Homo sapiens: one gene and its partners. The protein of the gene in region 1 interacts with the protein of each later gene in a pairwise test. Each region holds a gene or a part of one and is shown on either strand. Other genes may lie near its edges.

Region 1 (3,750 bases):
TGGTGCACAACTGCGGTCCCAGCTATGCAGAAAGAAGACAGTCTGGCTCCAGGAGGTCAAGGGTACAGTAAGCCATGATTGCACCACTACACTCCAGCCGGGGGTAACAGCGGGAGACCCTGTCTCGGCAAGGGAAGGGGAAGGGGAAGGGGAGGGACATATTCAAGTTTAGATGATGTGATAGTATAAAAGTGATGTCCTGAAAAGCTCTTTTTTTAACATGTCCAATCCTATTTTCTCACTATCTTCAGGACAAAATTAGGGGAAGATTCTTCTCTAGTCCATGTATATGTATACGTACATATAAAAACTTAACTCTGCAAGTCTTTTTAACTTTTGGCTGGGCGCGGTGGCTCACACCTGTAATCCCAACACCTTGGGGGGCCGAGGCGGGCAGATCACCTGAGGTCAGGAGTTCAAGACCAGCCTGGCCAACATGGTGGAAACCTGTCTCTAATAAACATACAAAAATTAGGCCAGGCACGGTGGCTCACGTCTGTAATCCCAGCACTTTGGGAGGCCGAGGCAGGTGGATTATCTTAGGTCAGGAGTTTGAGACCAGCCTGGCCAACATGGTGAAACCCCGTCTCTACTAAAAATACAAAAATTAGCTGGGCGTGGTGGCAGGCGCCTGTAATCCCAGCTACTCGGGAGGCTGAGGCAGGAAAATTGCTTGAACACAGGAGGCGGGGGTTGCAGTGAGCCGAGATTATGCCATTGCACTCCAGCCTGGGCGACAAGAGTGAAACTCCGTCTCAAAAACAAAACAAAACAAAACCAAAAATTAGCCGGGCATGGTGGCGGGTGCCTGTAATCCTAGCTACTCGCTACTTGGGAGGCTGAGGCAGGAGAATCACTTGAACGGGAGGCGGAGGTTGCAGTGAAGTGAGATAGCGCCACTGCACTCCAGCCTGGGCAACAAGAGCAAAACTCCATCTCAAAAAAAAAAAAAATAATAATAATAATAATTAATTAAATTAAATTAAAAATACGATTAATGCCTGTAATCCCAGCACTTTGGGAGGCCAAGGTGGGCGGATCACTTGAGCTCAGGAGTTCAAGAACAGCCTGGGCAACATGGTATAACACCATCTCTACAAAATATTAGCTAGGCATGGTACCATGTGCCTGTGGTCCTATTTACTCAGAAGGCTGAGGTGGAAGGATCGCTTGAGCCCAGGAGCTGGAGTTGCAGTGAGTAGAGATCGTACACTGCACCCCAGCCTGAGGGACAAGAGTGAAACTCCATCTCAAAAAACAAAAAAACCCTAATAAAAAGATTGAGTGCCTAATCTGCAAAAGACCACCACCAAATAGTGACTGCCTACCCTCTCTTAAGGTCTCCATGCAGTTCCCATGCGTAACACTCACTACTTTTGGAGTTTCTAATCAAGGAAAGGGTGCAGTTTGAAATGGCAATCCCAATACCCTGAAATTGTGATCACATCTCCTGAGGGACAAGGACCCCTCTGCCCGTGTGAGAACCATCCCTTATATAAAGTGATTCTTCACAGAAATCCCTCAAGTCCTGCGCTGCTCTAATGCATGTAAGGTGTGGAGAGCACTATTCACAGCACCATTCCAGCTCCAAGGCCACCACTGAACTACCCACATGACTCAAGCTCTTTCTGTCTCTAGCGCTTTACCAGCAAAACCAGCGCAACCTGTATGCATGGTAGCTCAGAGGGACACTGTGACAATCAACAAAGAATGGCAAAACAAAAAGCAGCTCATCTAGGGAAGCAGTACTGCATGTGGCTAAGAGCTGGGGTCACCATGTCGTCACTAGGCCTCGGTCCTATGGAGGCTACTACCTACACGCTTACAGCTTTAAAAGAGACTCTTAGGCCGGGCGCGGTGGCTCACGCCTGTAATCCCAGCACTTTGGGAGGCCGAGGCGGGCGGATCACGAGGTCAGGAGATCGAGACCATCCCGGCTAAAACGGTGAAACCCCGTCTCTACTAAAAATACAAAAAATTAGCCGGGCGTAGTGGCGGGCGCCTGTAGTCCCAGCTACTTGGGAGGCTGAGGCAGGAGAATGGCGTGAACCCGGGAGGCGGAGCTTGCAGCGAGCCGAGATCCCGCCACTGCACTCCAGCCTGGGCGACAGAGCGAGACTCCGTCTCAAAAAAAAAAAAAAAAGAGACTCTTAGCACACAGTGAGGCAATGATGTATTTTTCTACCAATAATTTTATTGAGAAGGGTAGAGAGGGGGACTGATTCACTCCTAGCCTTCTACTGTTCAGGCTTTAAAACTAGCAAACCAGAGCCAAGGCTGAGAAAACCTAGGCATCATAATCATTACAGACTAGCAAAGGGACAATTTAGCTTTCAACCCTATGACTGCAAAATATGGTAATGGGGAAGTCCATTGGAGAACCCCCCCTCCCAAAAAAACAAGCAAGCTAATCTTTGCAGGCTAGTATCTCTTTCCCTAACCAGAATAAAATCAAAGAGCTGAGTGAAAGCAAAGGCCTGGCAGCATGCATTCAAATAATCCAAAACCCTGTCTTCTAATCTTGAGCTCACAATCTGACGTGTCTCCAAAATCCTTTTTGAATAAACAATCACTCTTTAAAGTACAGCAAACACTCAAATGCATTGTATAGAGAATCTGATTTAAATAAAACAATTCAAACGGCTGTTTACTGAGTGGTTACCAAGGTAGTATCATGAAAGCAGCAAGCTGCCTGGGAGTCAGGAGGGCCTCCCCTGGAGTCTTTAGGTCAGGTTCCTGAACCTGGGTTTAAGTGTTTAAAACGAAAGTTTTCTTGATTGTCAAATGGAGTCAACTCTAACAGTACCTCCTCAGGAATCTACCCTAAATATATATTTTTATTTTTATAAATAACCAATCCATCTGTTTCTTATTCACCCACAAAATTACTCAGGAAGGGGCCAGGTGTGGTAGCTCACGCCTATAATCCCAGCACTTTGGGAGGCCAAGACGGGCGGATAACGACGTCAGGAGATCGAGACCATCCTGGCTAACAGAGTGAAACCCCATCTCTACTAAAAAAAAATATTAAAAAAATTAGCCAGGCATGGTGGCGGGCGCCTGTAGTCCCAGCTACTCGTGAGGCTGAGGCAGGAGAATGGCGTGAACCCGGGAAGCGGTTCACGGAGCTTGCAGTGAGCTGAGATCGCGCCACTGCACTCCAGCCTGGGCAACAGAGCGAGACTCCATCTCAAAAAAAAAAAAAAATTACTCAGGAAGGGGAGCAGGTTAAGTCATTTATTTTATATATGATACTACATTTAAAAAAATTTTAAAAACCTATACATTCCCCTAAAATGAACTTTTTTTTCCCTGACTATACCCTAACTCTGAATCTTTGCTGACTTTAATTGGAACAGACTTCTCATCAAAATTAAGCAAATCCTATTCTCACACCCAGGAGAGAAGTAACTGCAAAACAAGATTTCCAACCTGGGTTCCCAGATCAAGCTTGCTAGCTCACTGCATTTGTGGTCTACTGCACACTCCACTCCTGGTAGAGAAAGAATTCCAAAGAACCAAGTTTCTATTTTTCTCCTGTCTCTCAAAGGCTTTCAAGATAAAAATCCAAATTCACTGCCCATCAGCTGGCTGCCAGTGCTCCAACCTTAAAACTCTATAGCAACTTCAGTGTTCTTGTTTGTTTGTTTGTTTGAAGAAGGAGTATCGCTCTGTCGCCCAGGCTGGAGTGCAGTGGCCCAATCTCGGCTCACTGCAAGCTCTGCCTCCCAGGTTCACGCCATTCTCCTG
Region 2 (3,750 bases), on another chromosome or scaffold:
ACAACAAAACAGAGAGGCAATTACAGAGTTTCCATGTACACCCTGCTCTCTCACACATGTACAGCCTCCCCAACTATGGACAGCCCCCCTAAACTGGTACATTTGTTATAATCAATGAACCTACACTGACAGGTCATTATCACCCAAAGTCCACAGTTTACATTAGGATTCACTCTTGATGTGGTATATTCTATGGGTATCGACAAATGTATAATAACATGTAGCTACCACTGTAGTATCTTCAGAATAGTTTCACCGCCCTAAAAATCTTCTGTGCTCTGCGTATTCATCCCTCCTTCTCTCCACCACTAATCTTTTTACTGTCTCCATAGTTTTGCCTTTCCCAGAATGCCATACACTTGTAATCATAAAGTATGCAGACTTTTCAGTTTGCCTTTTTTCACTTAGTGATATGCACTAAAGATTTCTTCATGTCTTTTCATGGTCAAGCCACTTTTAAACACAACTTTACAGGTATAACTGACATGTAACAAACCACATATTTAAAGTGCATAATTTGATATGTTCCAACATATGTGTACACCCATGAAACCATCATCAAATCAAGATAGTAAACATATCTAGTATCCCCTGAAGTTTCCTAGTATGCCACTGTTCTCCCTCTTTCCTGCCCCTTCCCTCTGTAACTTATCTCCAGGCCAGCATTGATCTTTCTTCCATTATAGATTAATAGGCATTTTCTAGAATTTTACAGATGGAACAATGCAGTATGTACTTTTTTTTTCTTTTTGGTCTGGCTTTTTTTCGTGCTGTGTAATTATTTTGAGATTTATCCATGTTGTTGTGTGATCTAAAGTTCATTCCTTGTTATTGCTAAGTAGTAATCTGTTATATAAACATTGCTTTTTAAAGATGAGTGGCAGTAGTTTTATAAACATTTCTAATATGTGTAGTACTCTACCCTATTGTTCATTTATTTCTTCCATTCAGTTAAAATAGTGAAAAGCTCTCTTATGTCCTCATCCATTTTATGTTTTAATTTCAAAGAATCATATTTGAATGGAACAATGACTAGCCTTTTGAAAATTATTTGATTCCTTTCTTGATTAAGATAATCAATTTTAAGCATTAATCTTTCATGTTATTAGGTAAGATTTTTGTTTTTCAGCAGTTAGACCTGGAAAGCCTTCAACATTTCCAAACGTATTGGACCTCTCTCATTACTGTAAACAAAGTTGGGGGATTAAGAGTTACAAAGCCAAACACTGGTGACACACAGCAGCAAAATAAAATAATATCAAAGACAATACAGTGCCCTCAAAGACTCCAAGATCAGTTTATAATTAGTTATTAATCTGACAGATTTTTATACATTTTTAAGATATATTTAGGTTGAAAATCCATTTTAAAAAATTAGCTTATTTCCTGGTTCTTAAAGTGTAGACCTTAAATTCCAGAAGACTGATATATACATATATATGTTTTGTTTGTTTGTTCTGTTTAGAGATGACGTGTTGCTGTGTTGCCCAGGCTGGACTCGAACCAGGCTCAAGCGATCCTCCCACCTCAGTCTTCCAAGTAACTGGGACTATAGGCACAAGCCATGGCTCCTGGCTTCGGAGACTGATAGACTTTTTATCCAAGTTTTACAGGGCAAATTCTATTGCTACAAATACTATATAATTTGATTTAGAAGATCTTCATTTAACATGTGATGGCCCATTTATTTCAAGCCATCTTTACTGAAACAAAACAATTAGGCTAATCCCTGCATATTACTAACTTACCAGTGTTAAATGAAATTTATAGGAGGTCACTGGTTTAGACTGAGTTCCTCCTGCACTAGGGACAACAGATCAAATCAAAATGGAGTCACTCATGCTGAAGTTCCACTTCACCAAGCCAAAACTAAGTTGTTTATCTGACCTTCCAAGCAATCAGGAGAGACAGAGTTAGTAGTCAAATCCCAAACAGGCCAGTTGATATGATATGATATGACTGACATAAGGAAGTCCCATCTGCTTTAACCCTAATAAGAAAAGTAACTTTAAATGACCAATTTGCTTTTTCTTTTCTGTTTCTGTTTTCCTCACCCCTTTTCAGTGTATACGGTAGTATCCCTTTATCCGCAGATTCATTTTCCAAGGTTTCAGTTACCTGAGGTCAACTGTGGTCTGAAAATATTAAATGGAAAATTCCAGAAATAATTCATAATTTCAAATTGCACCCTGTTCTGAGTAGCATGATGAAATCTCATCCTGCCCTATAGTGTATATAGGATTCAGTACTATCCACCATTTCAGGCTTCCACTGGGGATCTTAGAACATATCTCCCCAAGGCCGGGTGCGGTGGCTCATGCCTGTAATCCCAGCACTTTGGGAGGCCAAGATGGGCAGATCACTTGAGGTCAGCAGTTCGAGACCAGCCTGGGCAACACGGTGAAACCCCATGTCTACTAAAATTACAAAAATTAGCCGGGCATGGTGGCAGGCATCTGTAGTCCCAGCTACTCAGGAGGCTGAGGCAGGAGAATCGCTTGAACCTAGGAGCCGGAGTTTGCAGTAAGCTGAGATCACCCCACTGCACTCTGGCCTGGGCAACACAGCAAGTCTCCATCTCAAAACAAACAAACACACACACACACACACACACACACACACACACACACACACCCCTTCAAGATAAAGTGAGACTACCATAAAACCAACCACTTCTGCTCGGCTCATGAGAACACTTGTTCTATTTTATAAAATGAGGTGTTGCCTGATTCTACAATGGCAAAGGTGAAGTAAGATCTTTAAGCTAAATTTGTTGTAATTTTGTCTTTTGACATTACAAAGTATTAAAAATGAGTCATTTCCTTTGTAATTTTGCAAATGGCCAAGTAAAGCCACACTTGATAACATTTTAGGGCTTAAAAAAAATCTTGAACTTGGCCCAGCACGGTGGCTCACGCCTGTAATCCAGGCACAGTTGGGGGCCGAGGAGGGCAGATGATGAGGTCAGGAGATTGAGATCATCCAGGCTAACACAGTGAAACCCCATCTCTGCTAAAAACACAAAAAATCAGCCGGGTGTGGTGGCACACACCTGTAGTCCCAGCTACTCTGGAGGCTGAGGCAGGAGAATTGGCTGAACCTGGGAGGTGGAGGTTGCAGTGAACCAAGATCTCGCCTCTACACTCCAGCCTGGGTGACAGAGCGAGACTCTGTCTCCACGGAAATCTTTAGTAAAAGGCGAAAGATTTATACAATTTGAAGAGAAACCAGAGAATGACTCTGTCTAAAAAAAAAAAAAATGTTGAACTTAAGCCGGCAACCAGATAATTCAGGAAAAGATTAATCAGATGAAGGTGTTCAAGTTAAATACAGCAACAGACCAAAAAGGTACTCTGAAATTCCAGACTATATGGCTCTCTCTACAACCGAAGCTAACAAACACACTATGTGAGTGCAATCAAACAAAAATAAAACTACAATTGGGAAAAGAATGACTAGGTTGGTCCAAAAGAATTAAGAAGAAAATAATCATGAAATCAAAGCTGGCAGTTTATGGGTGAAATTTTTAACCCCCTGGTATAGTCAAGGTAACGTAAAAAGTGTCTTCAAAACAAAGTCACTTGTGTTTACTACTAATAATCTCAGCTTTGACAAAAATTCTTTGCTTGGCCAAACTTACTCAGGCTTTTGAATTTTCTGTGAGGCCCATCTGTGCACTTCCTTGTAAAATCCAGTATTAGCAAAGAACCCTGCTAAGTCTGTTTAGCATAACATCCTGGATATCTAATC
Region 3 (3,750 bases), on another chromosome or scaffold:
TTTTCTGTTCCCTCTCTCCTTCCGAAACCCAAACACCCAGGGCTCCTTTTTCTTCTTTCCTCATTAGCATCCCAGTTTCTCACTTCTTACCCAGACTCCCCTATTACCAAAGATATTTAAAAGCTTCCCAGGATGTTCTGCAGCCTGGCACTTCACACAGCCCATTTTTAGCACCCCCCTTCCTCTATATCACAACCGCTTCAATTACTCAGCTGACACCAATTTCCCACAGCTGACCCTCTCAATCCCTTATTGGAGACACTCACTGGGTAGTCCCCAGGGGGGCCCCAGTTCCCGGCGGGGCCCCGGTGAGGTGGGGGTAGGGGAGGCTTTGGGGCAGGAGGTCCCGGCTCTGTCTCTGGAGGCCGAGAGGTTTCTGCCCAGGCCGTCTTAGGAGTGGGCGGTTCGCTGTTGGGGGAGTTGCCCTTTTTGCCATCTGCTTCAGGGGGCCGTTCCTCACCAGAAGCTGATTGGGAATCCCTGCTGTGAGCAGATCAACAGTGAAATTAAAATCAGCTGCAACTAATATACTCCTCTAAGAGTATATTACCAAAATACAAACCAAGACCCCCTCCTCTTCTCCCCTGATGGCCCTAACTCACTGGCCCTCAGCACCCTCCTCATCAGAGTCTCGCCCATCTTCCTCATCGCTGAACTTGAGCTTTTCAGTGTAGTCAACCTCTTCATGGGCCCCTGAGGGGAAATATGAGTATTAGTAACCCAAGCATTCTGCCCTCCAATCTTGGGAGGTAGTCTGGAACTATGTAACAAGATGGACTACCAATGCCAATATCCTTCCCTCCGAAGTCTAGATCCACCAATGAAGTCTTGTCATTCTTACTCCTCTCACCACTTTGCAAGGACTTGGTATTCCCCATCCATCCTCCCCTACTCTTTTTTTTTTTTCCTTTTAAAAGTCTCGCTCTGTTGCCCAGGATGGAGTTCAGTGGCACGATCATAGCTCACTGTGACCTCCAACTCCTGGGCTCAACTGATCCTCCCACCACAACCTCCAGAGTAGCTGGGACCACAGATGCACAGTCCACACCCAACTAAAAAATTTTTTTTTTTTTGTAGAGGTGGGGGGTCTTGCTGTGTTGCCCAGGCTGGTCTTGAACTCCTGGCTTCAAGCGATCCTCTCACCTAACACTCCCAAAGCACTGGGATTACAGATGTGAGCCATTGGGCCTGGTCTTCCTACACTTCAATGTCTGCCTTTCACCCACATAACCCTGTATTTTTTTTTCCTCATTAGGTTTTGCCTTTCAAGATCCAAATTCTTGACCCTTAATATCCACTTACCTGCCCAACCATCATCATTCTCCTGATCCAACTGATCAAACTCTTTGAGATTATCCTCTTTGAGAATAGAGGGACGACCCACAGGCTCTACTAAGCGCATTGGTGGCCCTGAGCCTCGGGGGCCCGCCACACGGGGAAAACGGCTGTACACAAAAAAGAAAATGAAATATGGCATGTTGTATAACCACATGCGAGACTGATCCTAGACTGAGCCTCCTGGCTAGAAAACCATCTCCTCCCCCAATAAGCTTCCCCTGCCCCCAGCCACAAACCCAGACCTGGATTGCTCACCTGGGCCCATCAGGAGTGGGGTATCGGTAAGGCCCCTGGGGTCCATAGGGCGGAGGGAACGGGAGATATGGGGGATACATCTGTAAAAGGGTCCAACAGTAGCTGCTCAGAGGGACAGTCATATACCCTTCTAGCTCCTTAAGCCTGCTATCAATCATCCTCCCACCCTCCCTTCTATCTCATAGGTCAAAGACTAAGTCCTGATTCCTAGCTCTCCAGCTTCCAGTGTAATCGTTCCAAGACAAGACACCAAGACTCACGAAAGGCGGCATCATTCCGCGGTAGGGAGGGAACTGGGGTGGGCCTGAAGGCTGTAGCCCACCCCGGGGATCATGACCATGATGAAGTTTGGAGTCCGGGCCCTCCAGCTCATCAGGGCCACGCCCACCTCCGTCCCTCCAAGTTGTAGAATCTGTATTTTGGAAAAGGTAGAGAGAGGTATCAATGATTGGAGGACAAGTGAACACAGCTGAAAGTGATGGGGAGGAAGGTGAATAAGCCAGCACCTAGCTCTGAGATGCAATAGGTAATGTCTTGGCCAAAAGGCAGCCACTCACTTTGGGGGCGGAGGCTTGGTCCGGGCCCAGACGACTGTTCGGCAGACTCCCTTTCCTTGGCAGCCTTGTCCTGGTCGCCAGCCGCCTGCAGGGTCGGAAATTCCTCTCGAGAGAATCGTGACAGTAGGCTTGATGCCCTTCCACCTATTAGGATGGGGATGCAGAACAGGAGACAGAAGACATTTCCTGAGGACATGCTATAAAAGTGGAAGACTCTGGCTGGGCGCGGTGGCTCACGCCTGTAATCCCAGCACTCTGGGAGGCTGAGGCGGGCGGATCACGAGGTCAAGAGATCGAGACCATCCTGGCCAACATGTGAAACCCCATCTCTACTAAAAACACACAAAAAATTAGCTGGGTGTGTTGGCGTGTGCCTGTAGTCCCGCTACTCTGGAGGCTGAGGCAGGAAAATCGCTTGAACCCAGGAGGCAGAGGTTGCAGTGAGCCGAGATTGCGCCACTGCACTCCAGCCTGGGTGACAGAATGAGACTCCGTCTCAAAAAAAAAAAAAGTGGAAGGCTCTGACAGGTACCAGACCATCAGGTTTCCCGCCTTCAAACTCACCCCCCTACAGAATAACTGCTTATTCCCCAAGGAGGTCAGTTCTGGCACCACTACACTCCATCATATAAGACTGAGACTTAAACTTGCTCATGTGCCTCCATGAAACTGAATATGGGTGGTCCTTGATTTAGCCAAAGAGGACCAAGGTCACTTGGCTGAAAATACAGTGCAGGGTTCATGCATCCCATGGTGCCCAGACACAGCTCCCCAATTAAGTGCTGCACTCACCATCTCCATGTGCTCCATGGGTGACGCTGGCTTGTGCCCAGGACTTTACCCCGCTTGGAACCAAAGGAGTGTTCTGGGGAAGTGTTCAGAAAGATGATAAATGATGTGGGTGGGGCAGCTATGAACCATTCTTCCTCCCCACCCCTCCAGTTCTCCAGGTACCTCGGGGGCTGCTGGGGGTCGTTTCGGCTGGTTGGAGGCAGGCGTCTGTGAAGCCGGCAGTGGCTGCGATTCCGGCGGCTGAGCGGTTGAGGCATCGGAACTGAGGGGACAGAATGGGAAGGTTATTCACACCTGAGATGCCTCCCTGACTTCTCCAACTGGTGGAGACTCAGGACTGAAATCATGCCCATTGCTACCATTTACAAATATAAGGACAAATTAATTTTGTCATCCTTTGTAGGCTGTTGTCTATTTTTTCATGCTCTCTCTCCAAGACAAAAAGCTAAAGTTTAGTACCATTCCTTAGTCATTTAACAAGGAACCTGCAATAGGTAAGAAAGGGACCTCTTCGTCTCTGGCTCAGACGTGGCTGGACTAAACCAAGCCCCAATGCTCCCTGAAGTTCAAGTTAAAATACCCATCACTCTAGGTCCCCCAAGCCTCTGTCTACCTCTTGGGGTCGGACTGCTCCTGTTTGCTTGCCCATCCTGTTCCGTCTTTTGGCACTAGTGAGACATTGGGGTCATTGCCTTTGTTCTCGGCTTTCAGGCTTGGAAGGTTGGCTGGAGGTGGCATACGCCGGGCAATGGCAACTTTCCCGAGACTCTGCAGGCCATGGCGAGGGGCAACTGGAGAACAAGACGGA

What was found.
Region 2: the proteins of HNRNPM (region 1) and LYST interact in a two-hybrid assay, tested with the Homo sapiens proteins (one study listed by BioGRID).
Region 3: the proteins of HNRNPM (region 1) and PRRC2A interact in a two-hybrid assay, tested with the Homo sapiens proteins (one study listed by BioGRID and IntAct).

The regions. Positions count from the first base shown.
Region 1 is NC_000019.10:8,447,931-8,451,680, reverse strand, and holds part of HNRNPM (heterogeneous nuclear ribonucleoprotein M), read right to left. Parts: intron 1-3,750. UniProt on the Homo sapiens protein: Pre-mRNA binding protein in vivo, binds avidly to poly(G) and poly(U) RNA homopolymers in vitro. Involved in splicing.
Region 2 is NC_000001.11:235,860,215-235,863,964, forward strand, and holds part of LYST (lysosomal-trafficking regulator), read right to left. Parts: intron 1-3,750. UniProt on the Homo sapiens protein: Adapter protein that regulates and/or fission of intracellular vesicles such as lysosomes. Might regulate trafficking of effectors involved in exocytosis.
Region 3 is NC_000006.12:31,623,715-31,627,464, reverse strand, and holds part of PRRC2A (protein PRRC2A), read right to left. Parts: intron 3,734-3,750; coding exon 3,556-3,733; intron 3,205-3,555; coding exon 3,105-3,204; intron 3,016-3,104; coding exon 2,943-3,015; intron 2,295-2,942; coding exon 2,151-2,294; intron 2,006-2,150; coding exon 1,854-2,005; intron 1,674-1,853; coding exon 1,594-1,673; intron 1,446-1,593; coding exon 1,303-1,445; intron 694-1,302; coding exon 603-693; intron 484-602; coding exon 267-483; intron 1-266. UniProt on the Homo sapiens protein: May play a role in the regulation of pre-mRNA splicing.